Regions from separate parts of the Homo sapiens genome. Here region 2 is linked to region 1. Evidence: fine-mapped expression QTL. Tissue or cell type: sun-exposed skin. Region 1 holds a variant in brackets; the other region holds the start of a gene. All regions are shown on one strand. Distances are from middle to middle.

The links. PIP is the estimated chance that this variant, and not a neighbour inherited with it, causes the effect.
Region 2: ACKR2 starts here. The variant in region 1 is fine-mapped to the expression of ACKR2 in sun-exposed skin (GTEx, PIP 0.97).

What each region holds. Positions count from the first base shown.
Region 1 is chr3:42,871,090-42,879,211 of GRCh38, reverse strand. It overlaps CYP8B1 (cytochrome P450 family 8 subfamily B member 1), which reads left to right and starts at 3,333. Exons shown (of 1, transcript NM_004391.3): 1 at 3,333-7,020. The coding sequence starts at 3,396. The coding sequence ends at 4,901. RefSeq lists a silencer at 3,894-4,070. The variant G/T (reference allele first, on the strand shown) is at 4,193.
Region 2 is chr3:42,806,246-42,814,345 of GRCh38, reverse strand. ACKR2 (atypical chemokine receptor 2) reads right to left here and starts at 4,901. Exons shown (of 3, transcript NM_001296.5): 1 at 4,814-4,901. RefSeq lists an enhancer at 8,022-8,100.

The DNA of each region.
Region 1 (8,122 bases):
CTTGGCTCACTGCAGCCTCAACCTCCCAGGCTCAGGTGATCCTCCCACCTCAGCCTCCCAAGTAGCTGGGACCACAGGCATGCACCACCATACCTGGCTAATTTTTGTAGAGACAGGGTTTCACCATGTTACCCAGGCTGGGCTCCAAGCTCTGGGCTCAAGCAATCCACTTGCCTTAGCCTTCAAAATTGCTGGGATTGCAGGCGCGAGCCACCACACCTAGCCTTGCTACTTATAGAGTACAGGCAGAGTAGATTTAGCATAATTCTGAAGGGCCCTAGGATTTTCAGAATGGTCGTGAGCTTTGGCTTCAACTGAAAGTCACCAGCTACCTTAGCTCCTAAAAAGAGAGTCATCCTACCCTTAGAGGCTTTGAAGCAGGGCATTGACTTTGCTCTAGGAAAGTCCTTAGATGGTCTCTTCTTCCAATATAAGGCCGTTTCATCTACATTAAAAATCTGTTGCTTAGTGTAGCCATCTTCATCAATTATCTTAGCTACATCTTTTAGATAACTTGCTGCAACTTCTTCATCAACACTTGCTGCTTCACGTTGCACTTCTATGTTATAGAGATGGCTTCTTTCCTTAAACCTAATGAACCAACCTATGCTACCTTCAAACTTTTCTCCAACTGCTTCCTCATCACTTTCAGCCTTCATAGAATTGAAGAGAGTTAAAACATTGCTCTGGATTAGGCTTTGGCTAAGGGAATGTTGTAGCTGGTTTGATCTATGCAGGCCACTAAAACTTTCTTCATATCAGCAATAAAGCTGTTTTTCTTATTATTCATGTATTCACTAGAGTAGCACTTCTAATTTCCTTCAAGAAATTTTTTCTTTTGCATTTACAACTTGGATAACTGTGTAGTGCAACAAACCTAGATTGCAGCCTATCTTGGCCTTCCTCACTAAGCTTAATCATTTCTGGCTTGTGATTTAAAGTGAAATTTAAAGTGATTTAAAGCGCAGCTCTTCCTTACACTTGAACACTTAGATGCCATTGTAGGGTTATTAATTGGCCTAATTTCAAAATAGCTGTGTCTTGGGAAACAGGAAAGCCCAAGGAGAGATAGAAAGAGGGGAGAACAGCTGGTCAGTGGAACAGTCAGAATACACACAACATTTACCAATTAAGTTTGCATCATATATGGGCCCAGTTCATGGTGCCCCAAAACAATTACAGTACTAACATATCACAGATCGCCATAACAGCTGTAATGATAATAATGAAAAAATTTGAAATATTGTGAGAATTACAAAATGTGACACAGAGACACAAAGTTAGCACACACTGTTGGAAAAATGGTGCCAATAGTTTTCCTCAATGCAGGGTTGCCACAAACCTTCAATTTGTAAAAAACATAGTATCTGTGAAGTGCAATAAAGCAAAGCACATTAAATGAGAAATATGTGTATAATTACTTTGGGCAGTGATTTAATATCTTTCTCCCTCCATTAGACCATAAACTGCAAGAGAGCAGGGACTGTGTCTATCTCATTCATGATTATAATCCCAGATCGTAGCAACATTTCTGCCAGTAAGTGCCCAATAAATATCTAGTGAATGGATAGATGGGGCTTCTCCAAGGAAGGAGGGAATGAATAGATGAGTGTGGGTTAATGAATGAGGTAAGAATGAATGTGAAATAATGGTTCATCCATTAAAAACTAGGGGACACGGTTCAGTTCATTGGATTTGGCCCAGTTTCAGACCGAATTCTAAGGTTGAGGAGAGTTGATGATGCCAAGTACTGTGGTGGTCCTGAACAATTAAAGAGGGATTCTGGGAAGCAGAGTGTGGACAGTTCCAACTCCCTGCCAAGGGGAAGCTCATAGGCAAAGGAAGCTCACTCCAGAGGGGATATGGAAGTTCCATACCCTCTTTTGTCTGAAGAGCCGAAGTCCCTGTTCTCAGGTCGTTAGGAAGTTAAAAAGTAATTTGGAGGTTATCAGAACTGATTGAATTGAGTTTGAACCTCACCTATAGCAACAATGGGCCAGGCTGCTTGACTAATGCCTTGGCGTCAATGGTACAGTTTTCTCCCTCTTGAGCTGCTGGCAGGGACCTGGGCTGACATGTCTCAGAAGGCCCTTAGTCAATGATTAGCTTATCTCAAGGCCCCAAGCCAGGGCAGCTGTCAAAGAGGGTCCCCACTGCGTTCTGCACCTAGATCCTCATTGTGAAATGAAGTATGAAGTGATTGAGTGAGGTCTCTATTGTCTCTGACATTTTACAATTCCAGGATTCTGCCTTCTTGTCAGAGAAGTGTATAGGCAAGCAGTTGGGCAGGTGAGAGGGCTCCGGGTGAGAGGCTCAGAGACTGAGGGCTCAGCCTCTGCTTGAAGAGTCATCATCTGGGAGGCTCTGTGGCCTCCTCAGATGAGTTCATTCACACTCATACCCCAAGATGGAGTCAACACCCCCTCCACCATCTCAGCCTTCTCAGCATCTAAAGCCCCAGCATCAATGCCTCTTTTTTTGGGTTAGGGGTCAGAGCTGTTGTGGAAGGGCATACAGTCATTCTTCACTTGCCTTTGACTGTGTACTCTGTGCACATGGAGGTAGGAGCAGACATGACTTCAACAAGGTCATGCCCCCTTGGCAAGCATCTTTGAGACCAGAGAGGAAGACAGACTAGGGAAAGAATGAGGAGATAAGCACGGGCTGCTGTGAGGTCCAGGGGAGCAGGCAAAGGTAAGAGAAAAGGCTTTAGGATACTAACTAACATATATGGAGCACTAGCATGAGCCAGGCACTATTCTAAGTGCTTTTCAGGTGTTATCTCTTTTTGCCTCACAACAGCACCTACAAGGCACTGTAATTATCCCTACTTCACAGATGAGGGAGTGGAGCCACAGTGAGGTTAACTTACTTGACCAAGGGGGCCAAGTAGGAATGGAGGCATTTGTTGAGTCTTCTAAAGATGAGGAAAGAGTGGAAGTGAGATTTTGTAAGTGCTTGATTCATTTCTACCAACTGAACTGGCAAATAAATAAAAGCATGAGTAAATGGGGGTATAAATAGTCTGTCAGCTATGGGGGTGGGAGTGGGCTCAAGGCAGGCTTAGAGAGAAGGTGCAAGAGCTGTCTGAAAAGGTCAGAGCAAAGCATGAAGCTGGTGAGCAGCTGTGACCATAGCTGGAAGCTTCTCTCTGAGCTTTCTCCTGGTTACCTCCTCCTCCCCTACGTGACCAGTCAGCCAAGTGTTAAGTCCAGGGGAACATTTTGCTGCTTCCAAGTACTGTCTCACTAGTGTTATTTGCCATAACTTGCGGCCACAGGGCAAGGTCCAGGTGCTCAGACCTTTACATCCTGGACTTTCCAAGGCCTCCCAAAGCTCTCTGGCACCCAGGGAACAGTGTGCGTGTCGAGAGCTTAATCCGCAGGAGCATAGCCATGGTTCTCTGGGGTCCAGTGCTGGGAGCTCTGCTGGTGGTCATTGCTGGATACCTGTGCCTGCCAGGGATGCTCCGACAACGCAGGCCATGGGAGCCCCCTCTGGACAAGGGTACCGTGCCCTGGCTTGGCCATGCCATGGCTTTCCGGAAGAATATGTTTGAATTTCTGAAGCGCATGAGGACCAAGCATGGGGATGTGTTCACAGTGCAGCTAGGGGGCCAGTACTTCACCTTCGTCATGGACCCCCTCTCCTTTGGCTCCATCCTCAAGGACACACAGAGAAAACTAGACTTTGGGCAATATGCAAAAAAACTGGTGCTGAAGGTATTTGGATACCGTTCAGTGCAAGGGGACCATGAGATGATACACTCAGCCAGCACCAAGCATCTGAGGGGGGATGGCTTGAAGGATCTTAATGAGACCATGCTGGACAGCCTGTCCTTTGTAATGCTGACGTCCAAAGGCTGGAGTCTGGATGCCAGTTGCTGGCATGAGGACAGCCTCTTTCGCTTCTGCTATTACATCTTGTTCACAGCTGGCTACCTGAGCTTGTTCGGCTACACGAAGGACAAGGAGCAGGACCTGCTACAGGCAGGAGAGTTATTCATGGAGTTCCGCAAGTTTGACCTTCTTTTCCCAAGGTTTGTCTACTCCCTGCTGTGGCCCCGGGAGTGGCTAGAAGTGGGCCGACTCCAGCGTCTCTTTCACAAGATGCTCTCCGTGAGCCACAGCCAGGAGAAGGAGGGCATCAGCAACTGGCTGGGCAACATGCTTCAGTTTCTGAGGGAGCAGGG[G/T]GTACCCTCAGCTATGCAGGACAAGTTCAACTTCATGATGCTCTGGGCCTCCCAGGGGAACACGGGGCCTACCTCTTTCTGGGCCCTCTTGTACCTCCTGAAGCACCCAGAAGCTATTCGGGCTGTGAGGGAGGAAGCTACCCAGGTCCTGGGTGAGGCCAGGCTGGAGACCAAGCAGTCCTTTGCCTTCAAACTCGGTGCCCTGCAACACACCCCAGTTCTAGACAGCGTGGTGGAGGAGACGCTGCGGCTGAGGGCTGCACCCACCCTCCTCAGGTTGGTTCATGAAGACTATACCCTGAAGATGTCCAGTGGGCAGGAGTATCTGTTCCGCCATGGAGACATCCTGGCCCTCTTTCCCTACCTCTCAGTGCACATGGACCCTGACATCCACCCTGAGCCCACCGTCTTCAAGTACGATCGCTTCCTCAACCCTAATGGCAGCCGGAAAGTGGACTTCTTCAAGACAGGCAAGAAGATCCACCACTACACCATGCCCTGGGGTTCGGGCGTTTCCATCTGCCCTGGGAGGTTCTTTGCACTCAGTGAGGTGAAGCTCTTTATCCTGCTTATGGTCACACACTTTGACTTAGAGTTGGTGGACCCTGACACACCACTACCCCATGTTGACCCGCAGCGCTGGGGTTTTGGCACCATGCAGCCCAGCCACGATGTGCGCTTCCGCTACCGCCTGCATCCTACAGAGTGAGCTTGGCCAAGCCAGCTGCAAACCTGGCCAGAGGAGTTCTATTGCATCTCTCACCTGTTCTCACCCCTCTGCAGCCCCAAGACCCCACTGGCCACCCCTCCCTCTGGTCCTGTGGCACCCCCTACCTCTGTTCTGCCTGTCCTCGCTCTCTCCCCGCCTAGTCATCTGACAGGCTTATCATTCTCTTTAAAATACCATCTCTCAGAGTGGGTTCTGCCGAACCCTCCTCTCACAGGAAGTCCAGAGGAAGGGGGAGTATCTGTGGGCAACTTGGTTTGGGAGATGATGCCTGCCTTGAGAAGTCCTGAGTACAGAGACTGGTTCCCCCCAGACACGAGTAACATGGCATCTTGCAAACATCAGCCTCCACTCTCCCAGCTTGCTTTAGTTTTTTCAGCAACACTTATCCCACATCCTATGGAATTCAGGTTCTAGAACAGTGTCATCCAACATAAATATGAAGCAAGCTACATGAGTAGTGGGGTTTTTTGGTTTTGTTTGTTTGTTTTGAGACAGAGTCTTGCTCTGTCGCCGAGGCTGCAGTGCAGCGGTGCGATCTCTGCTCACTGCAACCTCTGCCTCCTGGGTTTAAGCAATTCTCCTGCCTCAGCCTCCCCAGTAGCTGGGATTACAGGCACCTACCACCTTGCCCAGCTAATTTAGTTTCCTGGTAAACACATTTTTAAAAAGTAAAATGAAACAATTCATTTTTATAATATACTTTACTTAATCCAATATATCCAAAATATTGGCATTTCAACGTGATCACTATTAAAAATTTTAACGTAATAGTTTTTACCTTCCCTTTTTCATCCTGTCTTCAAAGTCTGGTATGTACTGTACTTTTGCAGTTCTTCCCAGTTCAGACTAGCCACATTCCAAGTGCTTAATTGCCGTGTGTGGCAGGTGGCTGCCCTATTGGATAGCACAGGTCTAGAGAAATGATACCTTTTTTTTTTTTTGAGACAGAGTCTCACTCTGTTGCCCAGGCTGCAGTGCAGTGGTGTGATCTTGGCTCACTACAACCTCTGCCTCCCGGGTTCAAGTAATTCTCCTGCCTCAGGCTTCTGAGTAGCTGGGATTATAGGTGCGCACCACCACACCCGGCTAGTTTCTGTATTTTTAGTAGAGACGGCGTTTCACCATTTTGGCCGGCCTCCTCGGCCTCCCAAAGTTCTGGGATTACAGGCATGAGCCACTGTGCCCAGTCAGGATGTCTTTAATGTAGGAATCATTCAAGATCCCTCCTCAGTGCCCATGTCTCCCCCACCTCAGGGTGCTGTCAACCCTCCCTTGGTTTCCATGATCATTGCTGAACTCAGAGCTTTCTTCTATCCCCAGACCCACATGGGAGTCTCCCAGCACCTCTGACTCAGCTTGGCCAATGCAGAACTTGGCATCTGAACCCCTGCCTCTTCCCTGAACCACTCCTCCTCCTGATTTCCCTGCTCTCTCTGCTCAGAACACTACCATTCACCCCATCTCCCAGAGACACTCTCCCTCCTCCTCTTTCACCTTCATACAAGCAGGCCCCCGTCCTATCAGTACACCCCCCTGTGATGCCTCTGAAATATGTACCCTCCTCCCCTCTCCTACTGTCATTCTTATACCTGTGATCTCTGCGTTTCTCTTCTACACTGCTGCCAGAGGCCTTTTTGCCAAAAGCACTGCTGATTGTCACTCTTTTACTTTCCTGGTTCCCCTTTGACTTCACACACTTGACGTTTACATTTTGTCACAGTTGGTCCCCCTTGCCTTCACATACCTGATGTTTAAATTTTGTCACGGTTAGTCTCCAAACTTCTCAACTTTGCCAGCTTTCTCCAATGAAACCATCAGTAGAGACATTGCTGTTCCTGCCCATCCCAGTGCCAGCTACTCCTTCCTGGAAGCCTTCCTGGATTTCACGCATCCCATCCTCTGGCCAGAAATGGCCTCCGAACTGTGCAGCTCCTGCAGCACCATTTGTATCATAGCATATCTGTTATGTGTCGTTGCTTTCTGTGTCTTGGTTTCTGCCTGCTGCCCACTTCCCTAGACTGGAGCCTACTGGGGCATGGTATTTTATTCATTTCTGACCTCCAATTCCCTAAGTGGAGATTAAATGTTAGAAACCTGACTTCCAGTCTCGGCTAATTTACTTTCAGTCCTCAAATCATTTCCTGGCCTCAGCCCTCCAATCTATGAAATGAAGACAATCCCCCTTCCCAGCGTGCTTATCAGTGCTACAAGAGGGTGAGGGGGTGGCTGCCATAGCTGCAGCTGGCTGATGGCAGGGCTCCAGCTGGAGCTGGGACAGGAGGAAGAATGACTGTGGGAGCTGGATAGAGTGTCTTGGAGGAGGTGGGCCCAGGCTGCATGGACCCCCCGACCCAGCGACCAGCCAGTGGAACTTCTCTCTGCTACTTTTATCTTACATCTCTGGCAGCCTCACATTTCTCCTGAGGCTGGCTGCCTGTTCTGCTCTGCCAGGAGAGTAGGCAAGGGCCTGAGCTGGGGTGACAGTCTGTCTCCAACTAGCTATGTGACCCTGGTCCAGGGCCTGCATTTCTCTGAGGTCAGCTGCCCGCAAATGCTGATGTCTGCCTAGGGCTTGATAGAGCTCTGCCTGGTTAGGAGAAGCTGAGATATCCCATCCTATTCTACAAGGACCAGGAGCACAAGGAGAAGAGTTGAGTAGGGGGCATAGAAGGAGGAGAAATGGGCTGGAAGGTGGAAGACTATCCATGGGAAATGTACCAATGACATCTCTGCCCAGCCAGGCCCTGTGCCCAGTACAATGGGGCTGGGGCTGTGGGGAAGCAGGAACAGAGCCTTAACACACCTCCTTGGCCCTCCCTAGACCTTGGTGCTGTGTCTCCTTTTGTGCCTCACACCCAAAGGAATATGGGCCAGGAGAGTGGCCTATGGATTGGCTGGGGTGAGGCTGAGGGCTGGAGTTCCCTGAGTCAGGACCAGAAGGTCTCAACTGAGAGTGACCATGTGCAGATAGGAACTTAATGGACCCTGTGGCCTGTCTGAGAGCTCCAGAGGAGATGCTTGGGACCTAGAGAAGCCTCAGCGGGTGAGGTGTGAGGTGAATGCAAGTGTACCATCCCACAGTCAGGGATATCCAGCATAACAACAGGCCTCCCAGGAAGCAAGAGCCCCCCAGGATTGGAGTGTGGGCAGGGATCCCAATGCCCCATGCCCGCCTGCTTGCATGGGAGGGGCCCATGGGC
Region 2 (8,100 bases), 65 kb after region 1:
GTGGGTTGGTTTAATACCTGAAAACCCAAATAATGTGTTAAGTCTTCTGCATCAATTATACTTCAAAATGACGCCCAATACGAAGAATGGAATAATAGATGTTGCATGTTTGTTACCAATTATAATGTCTGTATTATGAAAGATGTAAGTGTGTCATTGTCATTTTCTTGTAACATGATATGGTATAAAGTGTAGCAGAATAATCTTCACCAAAAATTGACTGAATCATCTGATTATGTTTCAGATATTTATCACCATCATTCACCAAGATTTTAGTTTCTGCATACTAATCAGAAGGAGAGAATTTCTCCCACAAACAGGCAACAAAACCTCAAATAACTAGGCATAAACAGATGTTGTCTCTCGTTATTACATTAAGTTTGGGTAAAGTGTGAACTTCTTAGAATTTGCAAGGAGAATTCAAGTTTCCCAGAATGAGACTGGGGTCATTAATGATACTGCGAAAACTTAAAAACAGCTCACCATGGAACAAATTCCATCTATTCCTCAACAGAGCTTGAAAAACAAAATACAACTTCCTAATAAATATGGCAGTTTTCAGTCTTTATGCTGTGAACCAGTGAAGTATGCACATGATGCAGAAAATAATAAAGGCACATTGTACCAAGTTACAAACTCTTGAATTTGTATGATATGGTTTGTGTCCCCACCCAAATCTCAAGTCAAATTGTCATTCTCAGTGTTGGAGGAGGGGCCTGGTAGGAGGTGATTAGATCACGGGGGTGGACTTTCTCCTTGCTGTTCTCTTATAGTAGTTCTCACAAGACCTGGTTGTTTAAAAGTGTGTAGCACTTCTTCCTTCACTTGCTTTCTCCTGATCCCACCATATAAGACAGGTTTGCTTCCCCTTCATCTTCCACCATGATTGTTAAGTTTCCTGAGGCCTCCTTAGCCATGCTTCCTATACAACTTGCAGAACTGTGAGTCAATTAAACCTCTTTTCTTTATAAATTACCCAGTCTCAGGTAGTTCTTTCTAGCATTGCGAGAACAGACCAATACATATATTTTTAGAATAGATTATGTAGGGCAAACTGAACCAAGATTTTAAGTTAATATTAGATACTATAACATACTTATTTAAAAACAGATCAAAATCAAACCCAAAAACAAACCCAAAACATACTATAGCTCTTGGACTAATTCTTATTTGCAAATTATCTTGCTTTCGTTATTCATATTTTGTCCCAAAGGCCCTAATGCTAAATAAAATAAAATAAATTATGGAGCTTTATTTTAATCAAATTCAATAACATTAACAGCACTGTTCACATTAACATAACTGTCTAAATCAATCACTTTACCACATATATGATTAGAACCAAAAGAAAGCTGAAGGCCGGGCATAGTGGCTCATGCCTGTAATCCCAGCACTTTGGGAGGCTGAGGCAGGTGGATCACTTGAGGTCAGGACTTTGAGACCAGCTTGGCCAAAAAGGTGAAACCCTGTCTCTACTAAAAATACAAAAAAATTAGCCGGATGTGGTGGCACATGCCTGTAGTCCCAGCTACTCAGGAGGCTGAGGCAAGAGGATCACTTGAGCCTGGGAGGTGGAGGTTGAAGTCAGATGAGATTATGCCAGTGCACTCCAGCCTGAGCAACAGAGTCAGACTCCATCTCAAAAAAAAAAAAAAAAAAAAAAAAGGCTGAAAATTGCCCAACCACTTTTATTAAAGGTTTTCAGTTTTAAGCTGCATGGAATACTAAGAGGTCTGATTCCATGACCTGGAGAGGTAAGCAAGCAAACAGAGCACTGGGCTAGTTCTCAGGAAGGCAGAGTTATTCAGATTCTGCCTGTAAGTGTGTCATCTAAAACATCCACTTACATTCTCAAAAACTGTATTTTCATTAAAAGAAAGGAAATGGACTAGATGAGCTTTAAGGCCCCTTTTAATACCTAACACTGAGACTCAATCTTCAGAAAAAAATTTAGAATGCATTGCTTTAAACCTTTCCTAAACATTTATACTTTGTCTCTCTCATAAAGCAATATTAGAAAGTATGACTATCTAGGAAATAAATTGTATCCATCACATTAGTTTCAGTAAGGGCTTGGCACAACAAATGCAGTCCCATTACAATACTCCTAGCCAAACAAGGGCCGTTATGCACTATACAACCCTGAGGGAAAGAAAACTGAAGGGGGCCAGCCCCTCCACACCTCTGGGTATTCCTCGTCAGGTGGAACGAGAGACTGAGAAAAGGAATAAGACACAGAGACAAAGTATAGAGAAAGAACAGTGGTCCCAGGGGACCGGCGCTCAGCATATGGAGGACCTGCACAGGCCCCGGTCTCTGAGTTCCTTCAGCATTTATTGATTACTATTTTCACTATCTCGGCTAGGGGAATGCGGCAGGAGAACAGGGTGATAATGGGGAGAAGGTCAGCAGGAAAACATGTGAGCAAAGGAATCTGTGTCACAAATAAGTTTAAGGGAAGGTACTGTGCCCGGATGTGCACGTAGGCCAGATTTTTGCTTCTCTCCACCCAAACATCTCAGTGTAGCAAAGAGTAACAGAGCAGCATTGCTGCCAGCATATCTCGCCTCCAGCCACAGGGCGGTTTTCTCCTACCTCAGAATAGGAGGAATTTACGATCGGGTTTTACACCGAGACATTCCATTCCCAGGGACATGCAGGAGATGGAGGCCTTCCTCTTATCTCAACCGCAAGAGACCTTCCTCTTTTACTAATCCTCCTCAGCACAGACCCTTTACGGGTGACAGGCTGGGGAGGACGGCTGGGTCTTTCCCTTCCCACAAGGCCATATCTCAGGCTGTGTCAGTTGGGGGAAACCTTGGACAATACCCAGGCTTTCTTGGGCAGAGGTCCCTGCGGCTTTCCGCAGTTCGTTATGCCCCTGGTTAATCGAGAATGGAGAATGGCGATGACTTTTACCAAGCATACAGCCTGTAAACATATTGTTAACAAGGCACACCCTGCACAGCCCTAGATCCCTTAAACCTTGATTCCATACAGCACATGTTTCTGTGAGCACAGGGTTGGGGCTAAAGTTATAGATTAACAGCATCTCAAGGCAAAACAATTTTTCTTAGTACAGATCAAAATGGAGTTTCTTATGTCTTCCTTTTCTACATAGACACAGTAACAGTCTGATCTTTCTTTTCCCTACAGAAAATGTATGTGCCTTGTTTCAAAACAATGAGGAAATGAGGGCCTGCCACTGTGGCTCACACCTGTAATCCAGGCACTTTGGGAGGCTGAGGTGGGCAGATCACTTCAGGTCAGGAGTTCAAGACCAGCCTGGCCAACATGGTGAAACCCCATCTCTACTAAATATACAAAAGTTAGCCGGGTGTGGTGGCAGATGCCTGTAATCCCGGCTACTCACATGAGAATCGCTTGAGCCTGGGAAGTGGAGGCTGCAGTGAGCCAAGGTTGCACCACTGCATTCCAGCCTGGGCAACAGAGCGAGACTCTATCTCAAAAAAGGAATGAGGAAATGAAGTCGGTGTTAGGAATCACCCTTACAATTTTAAGGAAATTGAACACTCGAACAAAGGATTTTTAATGAAGCAATTTTACTTTTGCGCAGAGGGGTGTCTCTTCGGCCAGTTGCCATGAGAGCGCACTTGAACAAAGGGGCACGAGGGCCTTTATTTTTGACGCAAGTCTTGCCTTTGTATTCTTTTTTTATTGGTAGTGGTCGGGTCGTACAATTTAAACTAATTTTGGTTGGCTAAACATTCGATTTTTTTTAGATAGGGTGAGCATGTAAAAGAAAAAGTGGAGGGAAAGGGGAAAGGGTGTTTGTAATGAGCTAGAAAGTTAGTCTTTTTTTTAATAAGGAAAGGAATGTAAGTTGGTATTGATAAAACGTGGTATTGTGGCGTGCCTGGGCATTTAACAAAGGCAAAGAGGAAAAAAGGCGAAAAAGGAGAAAAATTGGGGGGGGGTACTATGAATTAAAGAATAAAAGATTGATCAGATTATTTGAAGAGAAATCTTATCATATCCCACATCAGTTTATCAATACACCCAGTCTTTTTAAACAATTTCAACAAAAAGTTAATTTGTTTGAAATGGTTAGTTGACTCCTAACTCATCATTCCAATCACATTACCAACAGATTGAAAGATATTCTGCAACTTAATCGCATTACCAACAGACTGAAAGATATTCTGCAATTAATTCCAATAAAATGTTATTTTTTAAACAATGAATCACTTTAGAATTCAGGAAATATCTATGTCAATACTGTTTTCTAATTTCCTATTATTTATTCTTTCCTGCTGTTGGGGCTCAGAAAATGATACCCCAAAGTGAAGGCCTCAGAAGCAGCCTCAGAAGCAAAGTTTCTAACCAACCTGTCTTACCCTCCTGTCTATCTGTCATACCCTCATTCTCTCCTGAAGCAAGTCATAGAAAATAGAATTCCTCTTCCCCAAGGCTGATTACAGAAACCAGAACCTCTAAGCTTCCCCAACTTTTTTTTTTTTTTTGAGACGGAGTCTAGCTTTGTTGCCCAGGCTGGAGTACAGTGGCGCGATCTCGGGTCACTGCAACCTCTGCCTCCCAGGTTCACACAATTCTCCTGCCTTAGCCTCCTGAGTAGCTGAGATTACAGGTGCACGCCACCACGCCTGGCTAATTTTTGTATTTTTAGTAGAGATGGGGTATCACCATGTTGGTCAGGCTGGTCTCAAACTCCTGAGCTCGTGATCCACCCGCCTTGGCCTCCCAAAGTGCTAGGATTACAGGCGTGAGCCACTGTGCCCAACCGCTTCCCCTACTTTTTGTCTAAGAATTGGCCATAAAGAAATTCTCTCACCTGCCGTGTTCAATAGCAGCTCATAAGACCTCCATTCCAGAAAGGATCCCGTACTGTATCCTGAAAGGAGAAATGCTACAATCGAAAGAAAGTTCAAGAATCTGAACAGACAGGTCTTGCTAGGTTTTCTATTACCATTAGCTCATATCCTTTGTTGTCCAATCACATTTCTACACGACTGTCCCTGTTTCATCAAACCTAAGCATATAATGAGACAGAGTCACCTGTATCTTTGGGTCTTCACTCTGAAGGCTCCTGCATCATGTAAAACTTTGATCAATAGGAGGCTGAGGAAGGCAGATCATGAGGTCAGGAGATCAAGACCATCCTGGCCAACGTGGTGAAACCCCATCTCTACTAAAATACAACAAATTAGCCAGGTGTGGTGGCACACACCTGTAGTCCCAGGTACTTGAGAGGCTGAGGCAGGAGAATTGCTTGAACCCGGAAGGCGGAGGTTGTAGTGAGACAAGATCACGCTACTCCACTCCAGCCTGGCGACAGAGCAAGACTCTGTCTCAAAAACAAACAAACAAAACAAACCTTGATCAAATACAGTACATTTATAATGTTTTTCTCTTGTTTTTGTTTTGTTTTTATCTTTTCTTTTTTGAGACAGGGTCTCACTCTATGGCCTAGGCTGAGTGCAGTGGCACAATCTTGGCTCACTGCAGCCTTGACCTCCCAGGCTCAAGTGATCTGCTCACCTCAGCCTCCTGAGTAGCTGGGACTACAGAGGCACACCATCACACCCAGCAAATTTTTGTATTTTCTGTAGAGACGGGGTTTTGCCATGTTGTCCAGGCTAGTAATTTTCTCTTGTTAACCTGTCTTTTGTTATAGGAGTGTTAGCTGTAACGCTTATGATGGGAAAGAAAGGGATCATCCCCTTTCCACCCCTACACTGCCTCTGTTTATGTTTTCTCCCTTAAACTGACAGGGCTGGTACACTTTTGTCGAAAGATGGGACTTTTTTCTCCTAAATTCAACCGTCATTCAAACTGGGTCAGACTAATGACAATTCTACCAAGTAGTGTATACCAGTAGCCTCAATAAAGAGATTTTGGGGGACAAATGTGCATCTTCCACACAGTTGTAGCCATAGAGTGCATATCTAACTTCCTTAAATTATCTATGTGGATCTGTCATCCTATAATTTGTCTAAATCCTTATTTTTTAATATTATGAATAGAGTCCAGCTTATATATAAAAATGTATTTCCTTTCTATGTCTTAAAAATTACTTGCTGTTGAGCGATACTATATTCCTAAAATATAGCGGAATCAAAATTCCTAGTTTACAGTCCTCTACCTCTATTACTTACTAGCTATTTGACCTTTATACCAATCAATCATCAGAGATGATTGAACCAGAGCAACTCCATCTTGAATAGGGGCTAGGTAAGATAAGGCTGAGACCTACTGGGCTACATTCCCAGACAGTTAGGCATTCTAAGTCACAGGATGAGATAGGAGGTTAGGCATTCTAAGTCATAGGATGACATGGGAGATTGGCACAAGGTACAGGTCATAAAGACCTTGCTGATAAAACAGGTTGCAGTAAAGAAGCCAGCTAAAACCCACCAAAACCAACATGGCGACGAGAGTGACCTCTGGTCATCCTCACTGCTACACTCCCACCAGCACCATGACATTTTACAAATGCCATGGCAACATCAGGAAGTTACCCTATATGGTCTAAAAAGGGGAGGCATGAATAATCCACCCTTTGTTTAGCATACAATCAAGAAATAACCATAAAAATAGGCAACCAGCAGCCCTTGGGGGTATTCTGCCTATAGAGTAGCCATTCTTTTATTCCTTTACTTTTCTAATAAGCTTGCCTTCACTGTACTCTATGGATTCGTCTAGAATTACTTCTTGCAGGAGATCCAAGAACCCTCTCTTGGGGTCTGGATTGGGAGCCCTAATAGTAATTGGTTTAAAAGGTGCTTATACTTACAGCTTCAAGGGCAAGGTCTGACTCTTTTTGCACAGTACACAGCAAGGAATTTTTAAAGCAATAGCTAACATTTTTCATGCCAAGCATGGGGCTAACATGCTACATATATTTCCTCTTTAACCATCATTCATGTTACCCCCCATTTTACAAGTGAAAAAAGTGACACTTTGAGAAATCAAATCCAAGGTCACGGCTAGTATGTTGCCAACTAGTTGCTCTCCGCTGATGGGGCAGTATATCTTATTCTCTGGAAATTAACAAGTTAGCTGATGTTAGTTTGAGGCATATACATTGCCTTCAGAAATGAATATGCTTTGGTCACTGCTGCCATTAGCCTTTGTGTTTACAGAATCAAGAGACTAATGACTTCCGGTTGACCTTCATATTGAAGGCAGTGGGGTTTATCCTATAGTTCCTGACTATCCCTACTTATCTTTTAAACCCTCCAGTTATTGCAGCATTTACATCTTTCTTCATTTACCATTATTGAATTTCTATTGAGCACACAGGCAGCATTCAAGGAGATACCAGGATCATCCAGACAAAATATGTGCCTTCAAGGAGCTGAAAGCTACCATATAATCAAAGTATGAAGTTCTCTCTTTTTTTTTTTTTTTTTTTTTTGACAGAATCTCTCTCTGTCACCCAGGCTGGAGTGCAGTGGTGCGATCTTGGCTCACTACAAGCTCCGATTCCCGGGTTCACGCCATTCTCCTGCCTCAGTCTCTCCAGTAGCTGGGACTACAGGTGCACGCCACCACACCCGGCTAATTTTTTGTATTTTTAGTAGAGACGGGGTTTCACTGTGTTAGCCAGTATGGTCTCGATCTCCTGACCTGGTGATCCGCCTGCCTCAGCCTCCCAAAGTGCTTGGATTACAGGCGTGAGCCACCGTGCCCAGCGAAGTATGAAGTTCTTAATCATCCATAGCATGAAATGTTTCTTACATGTATCTTAATTATGAGATGAACGATTTTCAAAATCCTGAGCCCATGACATTTAGTTCCTATCTGTATGACGAGCACTTGGTAGTCTGCCTTGTTTTGTGGTTATATCAAGAAACTCTAACTTAATCACAGATTTCTCCATGGTGCAGTTGTAGATGCTTTGCATCTGAGGACTAAGCTCTGATTTTTTTTATCATGCCCAAATTCCTATCTAAGGGGTCTGGGGAGTCATGCCCCACAAATAATAAGTTATCATCAAATGGGTTTTATTTAACTCTATATATCGTGACTTACTTTCCAACTTGACTCTGGCATAACATTATAAGACAAGGAAGAAAATAAAAATATTTTACCCCAAAACATATTTCTTTGCCATAT